Linked DNA regions of Homo sapiens. The protein of the gene in region 3 purifies or fractionates together with the protein of the main gene of each other region. This does not show direct contact. Each region holds a gene or a part of one and is shown on either strand. Other genes may lie near its edges. The genes, in order: AP3S1, FRAS1, KLK5, METTL13, POLE2, PASK and LOXL2.

Evidence for each region.
Region 1: the proteins of KLK5 (region 3) and AP3S1 purify together in Homo sapiens (affinity purification with mass spectrometry; 3 studies listed by BioGRID and IntAct, with this or other methods). This does not show direct contact.
Region 2: the proteins of KLK5 (region 3) and FRAS1 purify together in Homo sapiens (affinity purification with mass spectrometry; 4 studies listed by BioGRID and IntAct, with this or other methods). This does not show direct contact.
Region 4: the proteins of KLK5 (region 3) and METTL13 purify together in Homo sapiens (affinity purification with mass spectrometry; 3 studies listed by BioGRID and IntAct, with this or other methods). This does not show direct contact.
Region 5: the proteins of KLK5 (region 3) and POLE2 purify together in Homo sapiens (affinity purification with mass spectrometry; 3 studies listed by BioGRID and IntAct, with this or other methods). This does not show direct contact.
Region 6: the proteins of KLK5 (region 3) and PASK purify together in Homo sapiens (affinity purification with mass spectrometry; 3 studies listed by BioGRID and IntAct, with this or other methods). This does not show direct contact.
Region 7: the proteins of KLK5 (region 3) and LOXL2 purify together in Homo sapiens (affinity purification with mass spectrometry; 4 studies listed by BioGRID and IntAct, with this or other methods). This does not show direct contact.

The regions. Positions count from the first base shown.
Region 1 is NC_000005.10:115,869,435-115,872,934, forward strand, and holds part of AP3S1 (AP-3 complex subunit sigma-1), read left to right. Parts: intron 1-582; coding exon 583-694; intron 695-3,500. UniProt on the Homo sapiens protein: Part of the AP-3 complex, an adaptor-related complex which is not clathrin-associated. The complex is associated with the Golgi region as well as more peripheral structures.
Region 2 is NC_000004.12:78,060,323-78,063,822, reverse strand, and holds part of FRAS1 (extracellular matrix organizing protein FRAS1 isoform 1 precursor), read right to left. Parts: intron 1-3,500. UniProt on the Homo sapiens protein: Involved in extracellular matrix organization. Required for the regulation of epidermal-basement membrane adhesion responsible for proper organogenesis during embryonic development. Involved in brain organization and function.
Region 3 is NC_000019.10:50,943,039-50,946,538, forward strand, and holds the end of KLK5 (kallikrein-5 preproprotein), read right to left. Parts: intron 749-3,500; coding exon 593-748; 3' UTR 265-592; downstream 1-264. UniProt on the Homo sapiens protein: May be involved in desquamation.
Region 4 is NC_000001.11:171,791,660-171,794,937, reverse strand, and holds part of METTL13 (eEF1A lysine and N-terminal methyltransferase), read right to left. Parts: intron 2,922-3,278; coding exon 2,703-2,921; intron 543-2,702; coding exon 411-542; intron 1-410. UniProt on the Homo sapiens protein: Dual methyltransferase that catalyzes methylation of elongation factor 1-alpha (EEF1A1 and EEF1A2) at two different positions, and is therefore involved in the regulation of mRNA translation.
Region 5 is NC_000014.9:49,643,215-49,646,714, forward strand, and holds the end of POLE2 (DNA polymerase epsilon subunit 2), read right to left. Parts: exon of another isoform or gene 3,356-3,500; intron 457-3,355; coding exon 438-456; 3' UTR 341-437; downstream 1-340. UniProt on the Homo sapiens protein: Accessory component of the DNA polymerase epsilon complex. Participates in DNA repair and in chromosomal DNA replication.
Region 6 is NC_000002.12:241,128,973-241,132,472, forward strand, and holds part of PASK (PAS domain-containing serine/threonine-protein kinase), read right to left. Parts: intron 1-3,500. UniProt on the Homo sapiens protein: Serine/threonine-protein kinase involved in energy homeostasis and protein translation. Phosphorylates EEF1A1, GYS1, PDX1 and RPS6.
Region 7 is NC_000008.11:23,366,121-23,369,620, forward strand, and holds part of LOXL2 (lysyl oxidase homolog 2 precursor), read right to left. Parts: intron 2,315-3,500; 5' UTR 2,232-2,314; coding exon 1,877-2,231; intron 6-1,876; exon of another isoform or gene 1-5. UniProt on the Homo sapiens protein: Mediates the post-translational oxidative deamination of lysine residues on target proteins leading to the formation of deaminated lysine (allysine).

The DNA.
Region 1 (3,500 bases), on a different chromosome or scaffold from region 3:
TACTTCTCTGACTTTATCATTTACTAATCTTTTCTTATCTACTGGCCTTTTTTCTCTTCCCTGAACATACATACTTTGTTCTTGATGAAATGTCCTTTTAGTACTTACTACCTTAGCCTGAAATGCTCTTCTCTAAATTTTTTCCAAGCCAACTCCTTATCATTAGATCTCAGCTTAAATGCCACTCTTGCTTAATATTCAGCCTGAAGTAGGGAACCCATCAATATATCATCATTGTATTTTGATTGTCAGTGTAACACTTGCCACTATCTGATGATGTTCTGATGTGTGTGTTTGTTGCTTCTTCCCCACTACCAGTGCTTGGCACATAGTAGTTACTCAGAGAATAGTTTAATGAATGAATGAACTGAAATTAAGCACTGGCTTCTTTTACTTGATGTTTCTGAAGAAAACAGCCACCTTAATTCACCTAGTCTCTGAATAAGTTCACTTAAATACTTTGCCATTGAATGTCACCTTTCATTTGACAAGTGGTTTTTAAACAAATTGTCAGTTTGCTTGAGCTAATGAAAATGATTCGCATTTTGTTTCCAATAACATTACAATTTTTTTGTCATTTAGATTAATTGGAGGATCTGACAACAAACTGATTTATAGACATTATGCAACGTTATATTTTGTCTTCTGTGTGGATTCTTCAGAAAGTGAACTTGGCATTTTAGATCTAATTCAAGTAAGTTAACACTTGCTTCTTACTATCTTAAATAACAGTTTGACATTTAAATTTTTAAAAACTTATATATTCTAAATTTTCTAAAATGATGTTAGTAAGAAATAAAGCATTTCATAATAGATATTGTGTTGGTAAAAGAGGTCAGAGGACATAGAAACAAGCAAACATTTGATCTGATTAAAACTATCATAACTAGTTTAATCATGACATTTTATCTTGCTCATGTAAGTTACAGCAAGGAGCTTAAGACTCGTGGGTTTCTTAACACATGTATCCAAAACTAACCCTAAACCCTACCTCTCCCTGTCTCCTGAAAATCTTTCATAATGTCCCTGGAACTCAAGGTCAGTCATCAGCAAATTTCTTTTTATCTTCAGCCTCTTCTGTTAATATTACTTTACATTTTGCTCTAAATTAAATCTTGCTTCCCTGATGATACTACGTGCAACCCTTTGAAGTAGTGGCCATTTTCTCTCCTGCTTCTTTCTGCCTTTGAGCCTGGAGGTGTAATCTTAGCTTCTCATTGCATTTTCCAGACCATTCTTTCTTCTCAAACACCTCCAAATTTTATCTTATGTTATCAGACTATACCACCTTCTATCCATTTAGTTATAGTCATCACTCATCTCCATCTCTCCTTCATTGGAGATTTTGTTAAGAATTGTGAAGGGTCTGAGATTTGCTCTACTTGCAAACTAAGAAGTTAACCTGCCATAATTTCATGGATGCTGGCAGAAGGCAGGAGATTTCTGGGCCAGAGACAAAGGACCTTATTACTAATAGCAAAAACATTAGCTAAAGTGACAGCATTTGCTTGCACGAATTCTCTAATTCCCAAAGGGTGATATGAAGAGGTCCAGATGATACCTGCACACACAGTGGATTAAATGACAGATGAGGAACGCCAAGTTTAGGGAACTGGAATCTTTTATAATGGATACTAAGCATGTCTGCCCTTGTTTGGAAGGAAGACTGTCTCTTCCAAGAGTGTAAGGAAACCTATCCTTTGCTGTGGAAGAAGACACTGTCTATTTTCCAGGGCTGTTTGATATACAAGCATGCTTAAAAAGATAGCCCAGAACAAAGACAGTCAATGCCTCTGCTCACAATACGTGTGGAAACACAAGATCCATCTAAAATTGTCTCCTAATAGATTTTGGTTCTTGGTTCCCTGGCATTCATTCCAGTACTGCTTGTTTTGTAATTCTTGGTGATTCCATTGTTCATATGTATAATTCTCCCAATATCCTGGTGTCTTCAAAATCTGGAACTCCTCTCTTCCAATAAATTTTGCCCTCCACTCCATCTCACTATGTACCCATTTCTAGATTTTATCTTTGTCTAAACTGTAACCCCTCCATAATCTCAATTTCACAGTTTTGAAGTCGTTAGACCTATTGCAACCCTCAGTTTTAAAAATCCATCATTTTTTTCACTCTGATTTTACTGATGTCTTACTTTCCTTATCCAGCTTAAATTTCATAATCATGGTAGTGATATAGCCTTGTGTACACTGAACTCCTTGCCCACACCCATACATCTGAACATACCTAGAGGAAAAAAAAAAGTAACCATATTTACCAGTCTCACTTTAAATTAATGATCCCTTAGCTCATTGAGTCCTTTATGCTACGCAAGAATCATTTTCTGTTTCCCCGGTCCATTTACTCTCCCATACCTCTAGATGACTACTCATACAGTCTCCTCTCTCCTAAAATATCTAGCACTTCTAGCACCTTGCTTCCCAGTGCACAGATAAAATTGGCTTTTGAAGTTAGCAAGAAGGTGGCATGGTTTGAGCTCTAGTTGGCGTTACAGAATAGACAAGAAATTAACCCAAGCAGACAACTTAGGTAACAAATTCTTAGCACTGTGGCTAAGGCTTTAAAAATAAAAACATTGTGGCCAGGTGTGGTAGTTCACACCTGTAATCCTAGCACTTTGGAAGGCTAAGCTGAGCAGATCACTTGAGCCCAGGAGTTCGAGACCAGCCTGGGCAACCCCATCTCTACAAAAATTAGACAGGCATGCTGTTCTGCACCTGTCGTCCCAATCACTTGGGAGGCTGAGGCGGGAGCCAGGGAGGATGGCTTGTAGTGAGCTGAGATTGTGCCACTCACTCCAGCCCAGGTAACAGAGTGAGACCCTGTCTCAAAAAAAATAGAAATAAAAACATTGTTAATAAAATAAAAAAGGAGATAAATGATAAATTGATCTATTTGTATGCCATATTACTCTTAAATCTGTAATTCTTAAACTGGGTTTTTGGGAGGAGCTGGGTATCAAAGTTACATGAAACCACAAGGTAATCATGGCACATATTCCTGGTATATGTTTCTTCTTTGTTTTGAAGATTGGCGGCAGTGAGGAAATGAACGTAAACATGTATATATTATGAGGTAGAATACAAATTTTTCATAATATTTAAAGCTCTAAGTGGAGACTTGAAAGAAATTTTGAGCTTGAGGTAAAGGTGCCCCAAGATCCCTTGGGTATATGTTCACTTTCCTCCTGGGGCCTACTTGAGAAACACTGCTGAGTTATGTTTTGCTTTCTCAAGGCTTTTCTAGTAAAGAAAAAGAAGCCAAATCTTACTTTTGATGACATTGAAGGGTTGATCAGGACTATATATTGCATTGCCTTGTAACTTTGTTTATTCTTACATTTCTTAGTTTATCCCACCTAGGGGAGTAGTTAATTCATTTTATCATTATGTCAAGAGAGCATTATATTTTTACAGAAAAAAAATTAATATAGAACCATGCTTTCTATTTCTCTGTTTCCCATGACTGAAGAGAGTGGTAGA
Region 2 (3,500 bases), on a different chromosome or scaffold from region 3:
TTTAAAATAAGACTATCCTCAAATAATTTTATTGCTCTCCACAGCATTACCTTCCAAAGTCAATTTCTTTTCAAAGCTCCAAAGGAAATCAAGCACCTTAAGAAGTATCTGAGTACCCATATCAAAACCTATTTTTGGAAGTTTAGATAGCCATGATAAACTCACTGCAGTATGAAAAAAATAAAGTAGCACTGAGTGTGGCACCACATCTATACCTGGGCAAGCCATGCATCTGCTGGAGACTCAAGCCAAAATGGTGTAGAGCTGCTGAAAAATTATATCATTAGGAAAAGGAATTAATTCAATTTGGGTTGCTTTGTATTGTACAATTCCAAAAGAAATAAGCTTTGCCCTCTGAGAGCTTTCCTAAAACAGAACAGTTCTACCTGGAAGGCAGCTGCATGAATGAGCCTCCATTAACACAGCTTCCAAAACCTCATTTCTACTCTCTTGAGAAAAAAAGCATTCCAGTGTGATGCCCAGTTCTATCAAACATTTATCATCACCCAATACCAGATGCAGCATCCAAAGGAAGCATATTTCTCTCACACACCCACCAGCAGATGAAGTTGAGGGGTTTGTTGACATGGGTACTGGGTGTAGCTTCTGGTTGAAAGCCAGAGTGGAGGTCTTTTCACTAATCCGTCAGTTCACATAATATGGAAAACAAAATTCATCTCTCGACTCATTATTTTTTTTTCTTCAGGAGTACAAGAATGATTGCAGGTCTATTTGACGTTTATATTTATGGCAGGGAACTTTAAAGAAAATTCCAGCTCAAGGTGAATTCTGTGAGAGAGTGCTGATCTAGAAGAAGAAATGAGCCTCCCTCAAAGGAAAACTGAGGAAAAACCGGAGACAACAGGAGTAGTTCTCTAACTATGAACAATGCCAATTTCAAGGCACAGAATGCAGCTGAGATGCCAGGTAATTTAAGTTCTAACACCTCACAACCTGTGAGAAAGAGCATAAAGTTTTGCAGGGTGAAGTAATTTTATAGTGTCAAGAAGGAAGCCCAGATCCTGAGACCTGAGCTGCTCTTTTACTGTGTGGCTGGCTCATTTCTTGCAGGTCACACAGAAAAAACGTTACTGCATAAAATTTAAACAAGTAAATGTCTGTTTTTAATCCCTTTTGCACATTATAATATACGCCTTTATGAGATGACTGTATAAAATCTAGTATTTTTGGAGAAATTTTGAGATATAATTTGCATATATTCTGAAACCGTTGGTAAACTGAGTAAATTAGAGAAGTTAAATCCAAGCACCACAAAATGTCAGACCCATTAGTTCAAAGAAATAGTGGCAGATACAACCATTAAGATACAAAAAGATTTGGAGAGCATGGTACCACAAGAACATGACTCATTAGGAACAAGCAGCCACAAGTTGGCATTTAAATGTTCAGGCTTTATGTTGTGTTATAATTCAGCATATGGCTGTGTGCACTGTGGAATACTTAAAATAGAATCATTTTCTGAACTGACAGGACAGCTCATGTCCTGATTATTGTCAACTAGGATTTAGATCAATTAATAGAGTAGTTAAAATGAAAGTGGGCCAACTGTTTTGGAACTACGGTAAGATTTGGCATGAGGCTCCAACTTTGACATGTGGTAGTCCCCTCCCCTACTCTGAGCCATGTGTTAAAGAATATTTTATGACTACTTGTGTGAGTACAGTTGGGTGACATTGCCACCCAAGTCCATAACAGTGAATACGGATGGCTGGGTCCTTACTAAAGGATGTACACTATATAAGGAGAGTAATGCCCAGAATCCAATCTTCAGAGGGCAATGGAAATATAATTGATGAAAATAAGAGTCCACAACAACACCTCTTTATTTCCATTGCCAGGTAATTACAAAAGCCAAAGGATGCAAAGTTACAACCATCATCTAACGTTTCCATACTGAGAAACCCACCAAGGACCAAATGTTCCCATATCCCTACTGCTATTCAACTGACATTAATGATTTCTAGATATGCAAACTCCTTGAGCGCAGGAGGTTTTTTTGGCTTTGGTTTTGATGTCTGTACCCACCTACTGGACATAACCTGACACAGAACCTCTCAATAAAGGCTTGCAGAATAAAAGAATTAGGTTACTTTTTTCCAGCCAAGTTCTTCTCTTCCCAACATTGAGTTATTGAGTTTCAAGCATAGAGTCTCTCAGTGAAACAACTCTGCAGCCCAGAGTGCAACTACCCTAACTCACCCATAAATAAAACATATTGTCTATCAAATGAGCCTCTTCAATGTAACCTGTTAAATAGCATTTATAGGAAAAACCCGGGATTCAGCGTTTGTGGGAATGGCTAAAATCACATGGAGAGTGATGGGACACAGACTAAAGCTCAATTCTCTTAACCTCCAATTCAATGATGTTTCCCTATCCCAAGGCAACTGTCTTATCTACTGTAACTTCACAGGACTTCCATATGTCAACAGAACTCAAGATATTTCTCCAGAAAAAGCCATGGTAGAGTTTCTGTGATTCAGAAAGCAGCCATGTTAGAAGCTTCTTTGTGACTTCTTGATTTTATTAAGTTCTCAAGTCATAGCATTAATACTTTACCAGTTTAGCAATATAAGGCCATATAAAATAACACTGCCAATAATTTGCTTGTAAAAATTTATTTTTCTTTTGATATTTCTTTTGATAAAATTTAGAGGCCAGGCACAGTGGCTCACACCTGTAATCCTAGCACTTTAAAAGGCCAAGGCAGGCAGTTCACTTGAGGTCAGCAGTTCAAGACCAGCCTGGCCAACATGGTGAAACTCTGTCTCTACTAAAAATGTGAAAATTGGCTGGGCATGGTGGCGCACATCTGTAATCCCAGCTACTCAGGAGGGTGAGACATGAGAATCGCTTGAGGCCAGGGGGCAGAGGCAGCAATGAGCTGAGATTGCACCACTGCACTCTAGCCTGGGTGATAGAGCAAGACTGTGCCTCAAAAAAAAAATAATAAAAATAATAAAATTTAGAACCAGAAAATTGCAATTGACCACTAATAATGCAGCAAATACTGATCTCTTTTTCTTCTATGTTTGATGATTAGCCAAAGTATCTTAGAGCTATCACGTAATGTACCTCATTTAGTAAATGACAGAACTATAGCGCAAAGAGGTTAGATGGTTCATTCAAGGTTAGTGAGCTAATCAGAGGCCAGTCCACCAGTTAAGCTTAATTCAAAATAATATAATTTGGCAATACTGTTCATCTGACCAATTTTTTGAGCACTTAGTGTATACTAGGAGCTGAACTGAAGATATCAGAATTAATAGGAGCCATCCTAACCCCTCAATAAGCACACAGCTAAGTGAGGAAGACCAAACCCATACCAACCACAATTGTTCTCTCTGTGCACTGAGAAGAAAACGACAAATTCTGCCATAAGCTGGTCAGCAAAGGTGTCACAAGGTACATCCCATCAAAAGAAGTATACATGTGAATGTCTCTTTTCTATTTTTAAAAATTATTCTCTAGGCTGATAA
Region 3 (3,500 bases):
TTGCAGTGAGCCGAGATTGTGCCACTGCACTCCAGTGTGGTTAACAGAGTGAGACTCCATCGCAAAAAAAAAAAAATAATAATAATAAATAAATGAAAATAAAAAATAGCCACCTGGCCAATATTTATGAAGAAGGTGAAAAGTAGTCTGACTGGACCTCTGTTTCTCACAACCCAAGTGACCTCATAGACAAAACACATGAGCCTGGAGGCGGAGATATGACTTGTTCACAGCCACCCTGCACAGGGAGGAGACACAGGAAGATTCCACTTCTCAGTTTATTTCTGGGACTAAATTTGGGTCAGAGCTGCAGAGAAGGGATGGGCCCTGAGCTTGAGGATGAAAGTGCCCCAGGGAGATTGAGACGCAACCCCCGCCCTGGACAGTTTTGGAAATTGTTCCCAGGGTTCAACTAGAGAGACACGGTCAGCCCAATGTGGGGGAAGCAGACCCTGAGTCCAGGAGACATGGGGTCAGGGGCTGGAGAGATGAACATTCTCAACATCTCTGGGAAGGAATGAGGGTCTGAAAGGAGTGTCAGGGCTGTCCCTGCAGCAGGTGGGGATGCCGGTGTGCTGAGTCCTGGGATGACTCAGGAGTTGGCCTGGATGGTTTCCTGGATCCACTTGGTGAACTTGCAGAGGTTCGTGTAGACACCCGGTCTGTTGGGCCGGGCACAAGGGTAATCTCCCCAGGACACGAGTCCCTGCAGGGAGCCATTGCAGACCACAGGCCCCCCAGAATCACCCTGCAGGAGAGAAAGGGGGGCATGAGAGAGGCAGAGATGTGGCAAAGTGGGCAGAAGGAGACATGAGAGACCCAGAGATGCCCATAGATGGAGAAGCAGATGGGAACAGACACACAGAGATGGAAAGTACAGAGATGAAGAAATGCAGAAAAAGACAGAGATGGAGACACAGGCAAAAGGAGAGAGAGGGAGAATGTTATTAATATTTCACTCCAAATCCAGCTTTTTTTTTTTTGAGATGGAGTCTTACTCTGTTGCCCAGGTTGGAGCGCAGTGGCCTGACCTCAGCTCACTGCAGCCTCCATCTCCCGGGTTCAAGCAATTCTCCTGCCTCAGCCTCCCAAGTAGCTGTGACTACAGGTGTCCATCACCACACCCGGCTAATTTTTTGTATTTTTTTTGTAGAGACGGGGTTTCACCATGTTGGCCAGGCTGGTCTCGAACTCCTGGCCTCAAGTGATTCGCCCACCTCAGCCTCCAAAGTGTTGGGATTACAGGCGTGAGCCACCATGCCTGGCCTCCAAGTTCAACCTTTAGACCCCATTTGTCACTCTCCACTCCATCTTCCTCTTCCAGATTCCTGTTGTCCACACATCATTTCGGGGGGGTCTGTGACCCTTCCTCTCCACATCTCGAATCTTCGTCTCTACTTTCTGTTCCAGCCTGTCTCCCTCATCGTGTATCTCTCCGCCTCCCTTTCTCTCTCACTCTCCCCTCCAGCCTGTGCAGGCCTTATTTCTCTTACTGGACACACACCTTCCTTCCCCATTCTCCACCAACCCATCCTTATACCTCCCTTCTGCAAAAATACGGTTCTCAGCCCCTGGATGAGGGTTCCTCGATCTGGGCACTGTGGGCATCTGAAGCTGGATAATGGTTTGTTGTGGAGGCCTGCCGTGTGCATCATAGCATGTTGAACAGCACACTTGGCATCTATCCATTAGTTGCCAGTAATGCCCCTCCATATAGTTGTGACAACCAAAAATGTCTCCTGGTATTGCCAGTGTCTTCTAGGGGCAGAATCACTCCCAATAGAAATCCATTCGCTTGGACTAATTTGTGTTTCCTGTCTTCAATTCCCCATACCTCCCTATAATTACCCTCCTATAATAATACTCACTGCTCTTCAACAGTCATTTTTTTCCCTCTTTTCCTTCTTTCCTTCCTTCCTCTCTCTTTTCTTTCTTCTTTCTTTCTTTCTTTTTCTTTCTTTCTCTTTCTTCCTTTCTTTCTCCTTCCTTCCTTCCTTTCTTTCTCCTTCCTTCCTTTCTTTCTCCTTCCTTCCTTCCTTTCTCTCTCCTTCCTCCCTTCGTCTCTTTTTTTTTTCTTTCTGACAAAAACGTCTTGCTTTGTCACCCAGGCTGCTGTCTGGAGTGCAGCAGTGCAGTCATGGCTTACCGCAGCCTCAAACGTTTGGGCTCAAGCAATTCTCCCACCTCAGCCTCCCAAGTAGCTGGAACTACAGGTGCAAGCCACCACACCCGGCTAATTTTTTTTTTTTTTAATTTACTACATATTTATCTATCTCTTTATTGCCTGTCTTCCACTTGGGGAACATGAGGTCCACGCGGCAGGAAGTTTTTGGTCTGTTTTGCCTGATGCCATATCCACAGCACCTGGAACCATTCCTGGTGCAAAATAGCCACTCGGCTAATATTTATGAAGAAAATGAAAAGTAGCTTGAGTGGACCTCTGTTTGAGGTAGAGAGAAATGTCTATCTCCCACCTGGGCACGGTGGCTCACACCTGTAATACCAGCAATTTGGGAGGCCGAGGCAGGCAGATCACTGGAGGTCAGGAGTTCAAGACCAGCCTGGCCAACATGGTGGAACCCCATCTCTACGGAAAAAAAAAAATAGCCAGGCATGGTGGTGGGTGCCTGTTATCCCAGCTACTTGGGAGGCTGAGGTGGAAGAAATGCTTGAACCCAGGAGGCGCATGCTGCAGTGAGCTGATATGGTGCCATTGCACTCCAGCCTGGGTGACAGAGCGAGACTCCGTCTCAAAAAAGAAAAGAAAAGAAAAGAAAAGAAATAAATATGTACATACTACAATAATGATGTAAGTGGTATGAATAAAATCTACTAAAATAAAAACAATTAGTATTTTTATTTTTTTAATTTTTAGTTGCCCAGGCTGGTCTTGAACTCCTGAGCTCAAGTGATCTTCCCACTTCAGTCTCCCAGAGTGCTGGGATTACTGGCATGTGCCATTGCACCCGGCTTCATTTCTTACTTACATGCATGCAAAATATGAATTACAGAGTCCTGGTATCAATTATTAGGAAAGCCAAGACTTGCCTTTTTCCCAGTAGCAGACACTGTTTCAAAGCAAACAAGCTTAGCTGCCTGTACCTCTAAATTTCAACTTTCTTGTGGTTTAATTTCTCTCATTATTTTTTAAATTTAATATCTCTGCAGAGTTTCTTTTGAGAGGCTGTTAGTTAACTGCTCTGAGCCTTGGCTCCTTGTTTGTAAAATAGGGCCAATAATAACAGGTAAATGAGTTAATGAGCTGAGGCATGCAAACCACTTAAAACAGTGTCCAGCAATTAGCCAGATGCTATTATTTTTATACTATTGGTATTAGTATTGTTGTAGTTGTTATTATTTCTTGCTTGTAGCTTTTAGTGGCCACACCCAGACCACACACCGGTATGAAAAAACAAACAAAAAAACACCTTGAGGTCTGGAAAAACAAGATACTAACCTTGCCTACAGAAAGGCTAAATAGTTTTAAATGCCACCACTTG
Region 4 (3,278 bases), on a different chromosome or scaffold from region 3:
TGAGGTGGGAGGATTCCTTGAGACCAGGAGTTTGAGGCTACAGTGAGCCATGATCAGGCCACTGCACTCCAGCCTGGGAAACAAAGCAAAACCCTGTCTCAAAAAAAAAAAAGGGAACATTCCAACATTCCATATGATTCCATTTATATAAAGAACAAGAACAGGCAAAATTAAGCTGGGTGGACAAATGTTAAGACAGTGATTACTCTTGCGAGGACAAGTTACTGAAAGGGGATAAGAGATACGACTTTCTGGCAAGCTGGAAATTTTCTGTGTCTAGTGCTAGTAAATGGGTGTATTAAATTTGGAAAAATTGATCGAGCTCGCACTTCTGTGCATTTTTCATTAAAAAGATAATTTTTGTTAATGGTCCCTTCTCTCCTCCCTCTCCCACCTTTTGTTCTCCATACCTTCAGGAGTCAAGATGCTTTTAACCTTCTGTAGAAAAGATTGCTCCACAAATGCTGGGGGCGGACAACTCATTCCCAGTGTTGGGTCCTTACTGTCAACATCAAACATTATGACATCGTAGCAAGGCCGTGCTGGGAAAAAGAAGGAAACAAGTCCTTGTCTTTGCTGGATAAAATAATACCATTTACATTCCAACACTATACCTCCTCTTTACCAGTGGTGGGCATGGTGACTAAGTTAGAAGGATGACACAGAGGATGTGGTTTGCCTGTAAGGGCACTGATGTCATGGCCCAGGGGAGTCTTTGTCATCAGGGTTCAGAGTGTCCCATAGTAAAGATGGAACCTTCTTCCACATTTAAAAGCACCTTCCAAAGGCAAAAACATTACTGGGGTCCCCTTTGCATGAATATTTCTCGGTTAAGAGTCTATCAACACCAGTGGCTTTTGACTGTGGCAGAACATTACAATCACCTTGGGAAGCTTCTAATGTGTACTACACGCCAACCAACAGAATAAAATATCCTGGGGTAGTAGGGGGCAGATGGGAGGAGAGATGGGAAGCCTCTGGTATTTTTCTTGAGCTTTCCAGGTAATTCTAAATACAGTCAGAGTTGAGAACCACTGATCTAGACAAAGCAGCTGACTAAGCCTTTAAGGGCTGACCCAGCAAATGGTAACTTTTAACTCTGAAAACAGCACATTTTGCCTCATAGGAGAAAATGTTCTGAAATTTCAGTTAGTGTTATCTTTGCAGTTCCATGAACAAGAGCTGACTCAAGAAAGAAATGATTTTGCTAAATGGGTGAGAAAGAACTGATGAAGAAATGGATCTGCTCCTTACTATAATGTTAAATTGTTTTTATAAGGGGTAGGTCTGCAATGCCACTGACAGGTTTTTAGAAAATTTTGAGACTGTGGTCATAATTATTCAATAATTAATAAGTATTTAATTAGGACTGCTGCATGCTTATCATTGTTCATAGCACAGATCTGATTTTGGTTTCTTACAAAGAGAACATGTTGGCTCATCAAAGTCCAAGGAAAACAATAGCCTGCATTTGCAGCCTTGAGCCCTCCAGTAATCTGAAACATTTTGGTGTTACAGAAGATGGGCAGAGCCATTGAAAACTGATCTATAGATAACAACAGCAGTAACATCATGGATTAAGTACTTACCATGTGCATGGCACTGTTGTAAATACTTCACCGTATTAGCTATCTGGGCTTGGGCACCTAAACTAACCCTAGCCTCAGAGAGGGAACCTACGAAACTGTTACAATTCAATTCAGTTTGCAATTAAAATTAAGATAGCATCTGTTCAATACTTGTCCCAGGCCTCCTAGTTTGCCACACCCTTACTGGAAAATATTCTAATCTAGTGAGACCAGAGTATCTGTTATGGAATGAGCAGACCAGCAGTCCTGAACAGAACTGAACCAACCTAACTGCCTTCTCCCCGAAGGACTCGAGCTCCAGAAAGTACTAAACTCACCAGCAGCCTATCTGTATAATAGCAGAGTTACTGTCCCTAGTATTTTACAGAAAATTATTATGCTTATGGTTTTTGTCCTAAATCTGGGATGCAAATTACTAGAGCAAATGGAACCTTAATTCTAGTTGCAGAAGGCCTATCAAAATTCCCACAGAGTACCATCTGCATCAAGGTTTCTCCACCTGAGCACTGTGGAAATTCTGGGCCAGATAATTCTGTCATCAGTGCCCGTCCTGAACATTGTAAGATGTTTACTAGCATCCTAGACCTCTACCGTTTAGATGTCAGTAGCAACATCCCCCACCCCGATTTGTGACAATGAAAAATTGTCTCCATACATTACCAAATGTCAGACCCTGAGGTTGTATACCACTGATCTTACATGAATACTGTTTTGCTCTATTTCTGGCTTTACCTCCAGTTGAAATATTTACAAAAATACCTCCCAACACACATTCCACCTTTTCTTCTCTGTTTCTTTGCCCAGTTAGACTTCAGGTTTCTTAAGATGGTGAGGAAATGACAAGGTTACAGGTCAGAAAAAAGCCCACTGGTCTGTTAGCACCATAAGGGCAGGAATGGCCTGTTTTACTTATTGCTTTACATTCACACCTAACACAGTGCTAAGCATATAGCTGGTACTCTAGTGAATAAGTATATCAACAAATGAACAGGCTGAAGACTGGAACGATACTCATGCCACTCTCTTAGAGATAAACTGTAGAGGCCCTTGCGGGCCTGACAATGTCGCATCAATCATCCCTCAACACCCCTTCAAATGCTCCAAGAGCAGTACCTTCTCCTCCTCCTGCCAAGCTGGCGATATAGTCCAGGCCATCTGCAATGTGGACCTTCATTCGGTCACTCTGGGAGAAGCCAAACCACTGGGTGGCCACTTCCAACATGGAGGGATCGATCTCCACAGCATCAATGCAGGACTTTGGAAAATGATCGTGGACAAAGAGGGGGAGGCTGCCCCCGCCCAGGCCTACCACCAACAATGCCAGTGGGATCTCTGTAAGAAAAGAATAGAGCATCACATTGCCACCTGTTCACTGGAAAATTCTGTACCAGCCTCAGGGAAGGCAAAAGGGAAAGTCAGCTCACTGTCTCCATTCAGGGGATACAAGATTTAGAGGTCTCCCTGTCTCATTTCAGAAATCTAGGAGTGAATTTGACATCTGATAACTGAATCCTGGATTCATGATGACTAGATCCAGAAGATGAACTAGTGTGTTATTATTATTGTCTCTTAAAGATCTCAAAGTGGCCAGGGGCAGTGGCTCACACCTGTAATCCCAGCACTTTGGGAGGCCGAGGTGGGCAGATTACTTGAGCTCAGGAGTTCGAGACCAGCCTGGGCAACATGGCA
Region 5 (3,500 bases), on a different chromosome or scaffold from region 3:
CCAGGTTCAAGTGATTCTCCCTGCCTCAGCCTCCCGAGAAGCTGGGATTACAGGCGCCCGCCACCATGCCCAGCTAATTTTTGTATTTTTTTTTTTAGCAGAGATAGGGTTTTGCTACCTTGGCTAGGCTGGTCTCGAACTCCTGACCTCAGGTGATCCACCCGCCTTGGCCTCCCAAAGCACTAGGATTACAGGCGTGAGCCACTGCGCCTGGCCCCCATATATTTTTCTTAAAAGACTATGCAGAAAATATTTTTCCTAGAAAACTTTCTCAAGTATACCATCATATTTATCACTTAGTATCAAAATTTCACAAAATACAAATTTAAGCAGAACATCCTAAAGTTTACCATAATTTTATTGTAATATCAGAATCACATAAGATATAGAGTTAAGCAGAAAACTGATGAATTTTCTTCAGATGATCTTTAAGAATCTCAAAAGCCTTGAAGTTTGCTGAAAATAGAAAAAAAAATTAAATATTTGGAAACCTAAGTTGTATACTTACTAATAGTTGTAGTTAATTTTTTTAAATAGGTATAGTTAATTGATTTTTAAAAACAGGTCAATACATACATACTGTTTCAAATTCAAAAGGAGACTCTAAAAAATAAGTCATTCTCATGCCCCCTTTTCTGCTCCCAAAAAGCAAATGTATGTCTTTTTTTTTTTTTTTTTTTTTCGAGAGGGAGTCTCACTCTGTTGCCCAGGCTGGAGTGCAATGGCGTAATCTCGGTTCACCGCAACCTCTGCCTCCTGGGTTCGAGTGATTCTCCTGCCTCAGCCTCCTGAGTAGCTGAGATTATAGGCACTTGCCACCATGCCTGGCTAATTTTTGTATTTTTAGTAGAGACGAGGTTTCACCATGTTGGACAGACTGGTCTTGAACTCCTGACCTCAGGTGATCCACCCGCCTCAGCCTCCCAAAAAGTGCTAGGATTAGAGGCATGAGCCACCGCGCCCGGCCAACAACTATATGTCCTTTATAAAGGTAGACTAATTTTTAAAAAAAGTAGCCGGGCGCGGTGGCTCACGCCTATAATCCCAGCACTTTGGGAGGCAGAGGCGGGTGGATCACCTGAGGTCAGGAGTTCGAGACCAGCCTGACCAACTTGGAGAAACCCCATCTGTACTAAAAATAAAAAATTAGCCAGGTATGGTGACGCATGCCTGTAATCCCAGCTACTCGGGAGGTTGAGGCAGGAGAATCTCTTGAACCCAGAAGGCGGAGGTTGCAGTGAGCTGAGATTGCGCCATTGCACTCCAGCCTGGGCAACAAGAGCAAAACTCCGTCTCCAAAAAAAAAAAAAGTATTCTAATCATATATAAGCACATGTATATGTGGGCTTATGCTTTAAAAACATACAGAAGTGATAGGATATTATGCATACTTTCTACACCTTTTTTCCATTAGTAGTAAATACATTATATTTACTTCTTTGAGGCTTAGAAATTTAAGTAAATCAGAAAGTTCTGAATAAGTACAAATATTTAGATATATATACATTTTTAAAATTTCTTGGTATAAAAACTGCAGTAAAAAGGCTGGGCGCAGTGGCTCATGCCTGTAATCCCAGCCACTTTGGGAGGCCAAGACCGGTGGATCACCTGAGGTCAGGAGTTTGAGACCAGCCTGGCCAACATGGTGAAACTCCATCTCTACTAAAAATACAAAAAATCAGCCAGGCGTGGTGGCATGTGCCTGTGATCCCAGCTACTTGGGAGGCTGAGGCAGGAGAATCGCTTGAACCCAAGAGATGGAGGTTGCAGTGAGCCGAGACTGTGCCGCTGCACTCTAGCCTGGGCAACAGAGCAAAACTCCGTCTCACAAAAAAAAAAAAAAACACTGCAGTAAAAAGCCAGCTGTACCTATACATGATGTACCTACTTGTATGCATAGGCTTAAGTATACCTATAGAATAAATTCCTAAAAGTGGAATTGTTGGTGTAGGCATTAATAAATCTTGTCAAATTGCCCTCCATAAAGGTTTCTGCCATTTTTCATTCTGACCAACTACATGTGAGAATGTGTATTTCCTCCAAAACATCACCAATATTGTGTTTTTAAATAAAACTACTTGAAAGTCATGTTTAAACAGGGTTAATTTTATCAACTTTGACTACATTTCTGTGACTAATTCCACAATATGATTTCACAAATATTCTAACAGAAGGCTTCTTAGGAGAAACTAAGTGGCAAGAAGGCCAGATTATTTCAATATATCTTGAAACTTTTCTGTTTTCCTAAAACATAAACTTACATCAGTTTGTTTGATCTAGCATTGAAAAGATTCCCCAGTTACCAATACAAAATTATAGTTTGGAAATTATGTCAAGGCTTTCAGCATCTGAGGCCACAGCAGATAAAGGAAGCAACTATTTCAGTGGACAAAGAGTGAGCATCAACTGCAAGTACCATGAGACAGGGTACTTGACAGCTGTCACCCAGGCTGGAGTGCAGTGTGGACCAATCACAGTTCACTGCAACCTCTGACTCCCGAGCTCAAGTGAGCTCAAGTGATCTTCCCACCTCAGTCTCCCCAGTACCTGGGACTACAGGTGTGGGCCACCACACCCAGCTAATTTTTTGTATTTTTTTGTAGAGAACAGGCCTTGCCATGTTGCCCAGGCTGGTCTTAAACTCCTGACTTAAGTCATCTGCCTGCCTTGGCCTCCCAAAGTGCTGGATTACAGGTGTGAGCCACCACGAATGGCTGCAGACTGTTTTATGTCTACAAGTTTTATGCCAAATGTTATTTCAGTAAAAGACATTCTAACAGTGGATAAGACTGTATGCTCCAGGCTGACAGCCCTCAGAGTTGACTTAGTCCTGGGGTCACAAAATCAAGTGCCCTCAGGATATCCAGCGTAGACAAGTGGGCTGGAAAAGAGCCACAGCGTCTGGCCTCCTTTTTAATTTTATATTTATAAGCATGTTTTGAAAATTATTCATTTTATATTCACTTTTATTTTAAATAAATATGTTAATTCCAAAAAGAAAAAGACAACTGGGCTGTGTTCAAGATTATATTCTCTGACAATAACCTGGAGGGGAGTTACTTGATTTGGTCAGTTGTTTTTTTGTTGGTTTTTTTTTTTTTTTTTTTTTTTTTTTTTTTTTGAGATAGAGTCTCACTCTGTTGCCCAGGCTGGAGTGCAGTGGCGCCATCTCTGCTCACTCAACCTGTACCTCTCAGGTTCAAGCAATTCTCCTGCCTTAGCCTCCTTCTCCTGAGTAGCTGGGATTACAGGCACACGCCACCACACCCGGGTAATTTTTGTATTTTTAATAAAGACGGGGTTTCACCATGTTGGTCAGGCTGGTCTCAAACTCCTGAGCTCGTGATCCACACACCTCGGCCTCCCAAAGTCCTGGGATTACAGGCATGAGCCACCGTGCCCTGCCTGGGCACTTGTTCTTAACCAGTGGTGGGAACTTTTTCAAAATACAGTTATCTGAGAAATCACATGTTAGGATGCCTGAAATTACAGGAAATAAT
Region 6 (3,500 bases), on a different chromosome or scaffold from region 3:
GAGGCTGAGGGTCTGCGTCTGCCTGCCTCTCTCCCTCCATGTCTCCCGCCTCTCTCCCTCCATGTCTCCCATCTCTCTCTCCCCTGTACCTCCCTCTCCCGCTCTCCATCCATCCCATGCTTGAGACAAACCCCATGCAAATGCTAGGAAACTGCACATCCTCCTGCAGGATCAGGTAAGACAGGAGGCGAATGCACACCACGAGGGTCTCACAAAGCCCCTTGCCAAAGAGTCTGGGCAACTTCTGGGGCACAGTCCAGACACAAAGCTGAGGCCCCTGGGCAGCACTGCATCTTCACCCATGCTCTTGGGGCCTTAGCGGGCTGCTGCAGCCTCAGTACCCGTTCTCTCCACAGTCACCTGGGTCCACGGCCCTTCCATCAAAACCCTTGGGCCAGATGTGTTTGGGGATTTCAGAAAAGTCATATGACCACTTGCTAGGGAGACCCCAGCAGGCTGGGGAGAGGGCTTCACGGGCATCCACTGCCCTGTGTCTGCAGCAAGGCCTCTGAACACTCAAACTGCAGAGGTCAAGGGAAAACCACAAACAGCTTCTCACGTGCTTAGGGCCAATTTGACCGTCCAATGCTTTTAGCATCAATTCTAAGAAAAATATTTCAGTGTTGGGGGCTTTTTGGATTTCATAATTTTGGCTAAGAGATTGTGAAACTGTGGATCTCTGACTTTCAGCATGACAGCAACTCAGGAAACATGAGGACATCCTCCAGCTGCCCTGGCAGCCAGGCATCGCCACGCCACTCAGTTCTGGCCAGCATGCAGTCAGGGCATGAAGGATGTGATCTGCCGACTGCACACAGGCCTTGAGCTGCTGGGACCTCAACCCAGGGCAGCCCCAGGGACCGTAGGTCCTCCAGTGGGGAAGCACCAGGACCTGACCCCCGTGGAGACCCGAGACCCCCACCTGCTGTCTGAGCACATCACCTGGGGTCTCTTCGAGGACCTGATGCCCAGTGTAACAATTCACTCAGCTTCAGCATCCATTTGCTAAAAATCAGACTACACTCCCAGGATTACCAGGAGAACTAAAGGAGACAACTTACGAGGAAGCACCCAACGTAGTCCCTAAAACACAAAAGCACTCCGTACAGCTCACCTCCTTCCTTCATGCTTCCTAACCCTGTTCTGTCTTACTGTTTCAGCTTATTGTCCTGACCAGACTACAATTCTTAGGGACACACCCCAAGTCTTCTGTAATGCTTATTTGTTGAATAAGCGAACGAGTGAGTGAATGACTGAGCGGGGAATGAATGGATAAATCTCTATAGTCATAACTGCACTAGCTGTGCAGTGGATGCTAATCAAACTCTCAGAACTGTGACATCCAGAAACGTCCAATGCAATAGAAAGACTAGGAATTGGCTGATCTTGGGCAACTCCCTTGGTACCACCAAGTCCTGGAAGATGAGTTGTGTCCAAGGTCCTGAGGATAGCAACGGGCCACGTGGCCTCTGTCCACCAAGATGTCCCAGACAACGGGAGCACTGGCAAGGGGGCCCGGCCGCTAGTGCTGTTGAGCACCCACGGGTCAGACTTGGGCCCTCAACCACGGCCGCCCCACTTCAGCTTGGTGGCACCTCTGGAGAGGTGCGCACAGCAATATTATTCATAGTAATATTGAAAACTCACGTGTTGAGCGCCTGCTCTGTTCCACTCGCAGTGGAAGTAGAGCAAATAGAGCCAACAGCTACCCTCTCACGCCACTCAACGCGGACCCACAGTGGCAAAGGGAAAATCAGGGAGGCTAAGCAAACAAGAGAAAGCACCGGCACATCGGCCAGTGGGAAAGTGGCCCATGAGCTAGGGTGCCATCCAGGAGGCTTCGGTTCCGAGGAGGCCTGTAGAGGAAGATCTGCAGGACATGTGTGTGCGTACACATACACACACATTTAGGACACTGTGTATGGTATAATCCCAGCCGTGCTCAGGGAACAGAAGCAGTTACATGTGAGCACACATATGCACATGCACACATAGAAGTATAATATACAACTATAGTTAAATGCACAAGAAAGAAGGCCTGGAAGGCTCTAACTGCTGACTGCGGTCCCCTGGGGGAAAGAGTAGGATTGGAGGAGGGGGATTGGAAGACGGCCAGGGGAACTATTGCTTTTACCATTATTCTTCTATAATTAAAAAAACACATATGCATGTATTACATTTTTTTTTTTTTTTTGAGACGGAGTCTCACTCTGTCGCCCAGGCTGGAGTGCAGTGGCGCGATCTAGGCTCACTGCAAGCTCCGCCTCCCAGGTTCACACCATTCTCCTGCCTCAGCCTCCCGAGTAGCTGGGACTACAGGCGCCCGCCACCATGCCTGGCTAATTTTTTGTATTTTTAGTAGAGACGGGGTTGCACCGTGTTAGCCAGGATGGTCTCCATCTGCCGACCTCATGATCCACCCACTTCAGCCTCCCAAAGTGCTGGGATTATAGGCGTGATCCACCGCGCCTGGCCCATGCATTACATATTTTTAAACATACATACATACTTTATATGTATCTATTACATATTTTTTAAATAATTTCAAGACTAGAAAACACAACTATGTGGATAAATATCACAGACACAGCAATAAGCAGAAGGCAGACAGAAGGAAATGCATGCGTCAGGCTCAACGGCAGGCAGTCTAACCTCTGCCCTGACCCAGGGCAGCAGGGTGTAGGGGGCACAGTGCAGGAAGGGACCCAGGGTCTGCAGGCAGCCAAGAAAGGGTCCTGGGCCACCTGGGCACCTACAGTTTGGGCACCTTTACTGCATGCTGTGCATAAGAAAAGATTCTGGGTCAGGTATGGTGGCTCACACCTGTAATCCCAGGACTTTGGGAGGCCAAGGCGGGTGGACCATGAGGTCAAGGGATCGAGACCAGTCTGGCCAACATAGTGAAACCCCGCCTCTAGTAAAAATACAAAAATTAGCCGGGCGTGGTGGCAGGTGCCTGTAGTCTCAGCTACTCAGGAGGCTGAGGCAGGAGAATCACTTGAACCAGGGGGCAGAAGTTACAGTGAACCAAGATCACGCCACTGCACTCTAGCCTGGGCAGCTGAGTGAGACTCCATCTCAAAAAAAAAAAAAAAAAAAAGATTCCGAAGAAGAAAATGGGTTAAAAATACACACACACGTGCTATGTACAATACGACTATGAGAATAGAACAAGTTTTTATTTCTACTTTTCCAAATGTTCCTAATTCTCTAATATAAACTTTCTTTACTCTAAATAGAATATTTTAAAATGTGCAAAGAGAACAGCTTCATATGACTTTGAAAATGATAAAATTAATCCCAGCACTTTGGGAGGCCAAGGCGGGTGGATAACAAAGTCAGGAAATCGAGACCATCCTGGCCAACATGGTGAAACTAAAAAAAATACAAAAAAGTAACCGGGCGTGGTGGCGGGCGCCTGTAGTCCCCAGCTACTCGGGAGGCTGAGGCAGGAGAATGGTGTGAACCCGGGAGGCGGAGCTTGCAATGCAATGAGCAAT
Region 7 (3,500 bases), on a different chromosome or scaffold from region 3:
AAATACCCAGTCACTGGAAAGCATTTGTTATAAAATAATGAGCGTTGGAAAGCCTGGAATGGAAAACATGAATCTGAGGTTACCCCTGGATCGCTCAGCCAGCCGGATAAACAGAGATGTGGAAGTATCGGACGTTTGTTTAAAGAAGACAGGAAGTGGGTTCTAAAGCCCAGCATTTGCTAACTTCACTGCTGTGGCTCTCATCGCCCAGAGCAAGCTGCAGAGAACATTTGACTCTGTGCTGTCTCCTGATCCAGTTACCCCAAAAGGAAATTTTCAATTGCATGGAGGTGAGATGTGTATGAGATGGGACTTCCTTTCTCCTATAATTTCTAGAATAACAGAAAAGTTGGAAGGGAGGATAACAGTTATCAATTTCAATGACTCCCAAACCTGTCACTTTGCAGACTTCCAAAAGAGACAGAGTCCTGGGCTCCAGCCCAGACCTTTTAAACTAGATTATGGTGGGTTGAGGTCTGCGCTATTCTGTACTTTTAAGCTCCCTTGGGCGATTCTTACGCAGTCAGCATGGCATTAGCCCTTTAGTCCAGGACAGGAGTATAGGCAGCTCTGCTTTAGTCCAGTAGCCAGACTTGTGCTGAGGTCTGGGCTGCAGCTCAGCCGGGCGGGAGGGTGTGGGAGCTTCCTTTGCCTGGCTGACCCAGAGATAGGAAACTCTTAGCTCCTGGAAAAATGTTTAAAAAGAAACAATTCCCTCCACCCTTATCTCTTTCCTATTTGGGAACATACACTGTCAGGGTTTCAGGGGTTCTTAGCCCAACTTCCAGATGGGGAAAATGAGGCTGGAGAGGACATGCGTCTTCCTACAAAGTGTGGTGTCAGAGGTCAGTACAGACTGAGCTCTAGGTTCAGGGCTTCAAACTTTGTCCTGCCTCAAAGCTGTTAAAGCAATTTTTTGGGTTTTTGTTTTGTTTTTTGTTTTTTTGAGATGGAGTCTCGCTCTGTCACCCAGGCTGGAGTGCAGTGGCGCGATCACGGCTCACTGCAGCCTCCGCCTCCCGGGTTCAAGCGATTTTTGTGCCTTAGCCTCCTGAGTAGCTGGGACTACAGACACTCGCCACCATGCCCGGCTAATTTTTGTATTTTTAGTAGAGATGGGGTTTCCCCATGTTGGCCAGGCTGGTCTCGAACTCCTGACCTCAAGTGATCATCCCGCCTCCGTCTCCCAAAGTGCTGGGATTACAGGTATGAGCCACTGCGCCTGGCCAGCTCTTAAAACAATTTTTAAAAATAAACTAATAAATTTGAACCTCACAAGGGAGGAAAGAATAGGCTAACCAACGGTGAAAAACCCAAAGCATCTGTGTGCCTATTGTGACCAAGCCCACAATAGCAGGTTAGTGTGAAAACGATGAACTCCACATGCCAGGAAGGTGGGGGGCGTCAGGGAGCTCCAGCATGTGGGAGCCATTGTGAGGAAGAGCAAGAGGCTTTCCTAACAGGGAACGATTTGGAGTAAAGCGCAACTTCCTCTGGGCTGACGCAGCCCCCAGGCAGGGCATATGGGGCGGAGAGAGGAGCACAGGCCGATTTCACCCCCTACCTGGGGTCACCAACTGTCCTGGTTTTCCTGAGGTTTTCCCAGGATGTGAGACTTTCTGTGCTAAAGCCAGGAAAGTCTTGGGCAAATCAGTATGGTTGGTCACTTACTGTGCCCCTCCTCAAGCCCCCCGACCCCGCCTTCCTGCAGGGTGCAGCCTGAGTGGGCACAGAAGGATGCCAGTCCCTGGATGGGCATCACCAAGAATTTACACTTCGCAGTGCGTGCAGCCTCCTCTCCCAGGCTGACCTCAGGGAAGGCCACTCCGGGCCTTGCCAGGTGACAGCACTCAGATCCAAAGCACAGAGCGTTTACCTTCTCCCTTGCCGTAGGAGGAGCTGGCAGTCCAGGACTTGGCCTCCACGTAGCCCAGCTCCCGGCAGACGACGTGGGCAGCGTGGATGGAGAAGTCGTCATCGCACACGGTGCCCCACTGGCCATCATAGTACACCTCCACCCGGCCCTCGCTGTGCTTCCTCTTCTGCCCAGCCAGGCGCAGCTGAATCTTGGCCACGTTGGCGGGGGCCTGGGGCTGGTGATACTCAGGAGCCGGTTGCTGGAAGTACTCGGGGTAATGGGGCCAGCTGTCATACTGTGCCAGGCTCAGGGGGGACAGGAGGGCCAGCATAGCCAGGCAGCTGCAGAGGTGGGAGCACAGAGGCCTCTCCATCCCTGTCTTCGGGCTGATGATCCCACGAAGGGGCCCTGCGCAGCTGGGAGGGACAGGCGGGGTACAGAAGCAGCAGGAGCTTTCTGGAAGAGAGGAGAGATGCGTTAGGATGGGAACGTGGGGCTACGGAGACCTACATAGAGAACCAGCGATTTCATACCCCTTGGCTTAATATGGAAAGCTCGTCCATTCTCGACGCCAATCCAGCCCCACTCCTACATTTCCACCATGCAGGGCTGGGAGGTCCCACCTCCTTTACCTACTGCCTTGTCATCTCTCTAGAATGCTTTTTCCAGTAGAGTTCCTGGCAGGGAACAGAACACACTCCAACTTAATTTAAGGAGAGTTTTTTAAGACTACGGACATGCCGGCAGAGTTCTGCAGAACTAACAAAGGCCGGTGTCACACCCTAGGGCTGGCGACTCAGAGGGGGCTGTGACCACCCTAGGCTTGAAGGGAGCCTGCGGGGGTGAGAACTGGAGACTGGCAGAGGGAGCTGTCTCTTAGGAGCTGTGGCCCTCACTGGAGGGTCTCAGAGCCAACCCATGGCAACGGCGGGGACATGGGAGGGAGAATAAATACCTGACTCCCTTTCCTCCCGTCTTTGAATCATTCTGGTGCCTCCTATTAGGCAAACCCAGCCCCCTTCAACTCGAAGCCACTGGCAAGGGAGCTGAGCCCATTGAGGGAGCCCGTGTGGGACAGCCTCCTGGAACATGGGGGCCGGTGGAGAAGGAGCGGGTCTGAAGGGGTGAGGGCAGGATGTTCAACACACCCACCCTCCATTAAATGAATGGCACCCCAAAACACTACAGGAACATTTGCTAGATGAATTATAATTTTCCCGTCAGCTTTGAGGGCTGCAATGCTAAATGAGTTTTAAAATCCTCAAGGTCCTGGTCATCGTATCTGGTGGAGCCTACCTCTAAGAATTCCCGAGTGAAATCATGTAGCAAGAGACCTCGTGTATCTTGGTCCTCCCGTAATTCAGAGAAAAGAGGAGACGATTTTAAAAGGAGCACACGTGTGTCTTGTGGAGAAACATGCAGGGCCCCAAACCAGGATGAGCAGGTGGAAGCTTAGGTGGGGGCATAAGGTATTTTATTTTAACCCTATGCAGAGGAGTAGGCTAATCATATTCTTCTGGTCATGGCACACTACCTTTGAGGAAGGACTGGCTAACTTTCCTGTAGTCAGAGCTGTCCAGAGCTGCCCATGGAGGGATGATCTGCCTTGGAGTGAGGCAGTTCCATGTCTGTTGGGTGACCA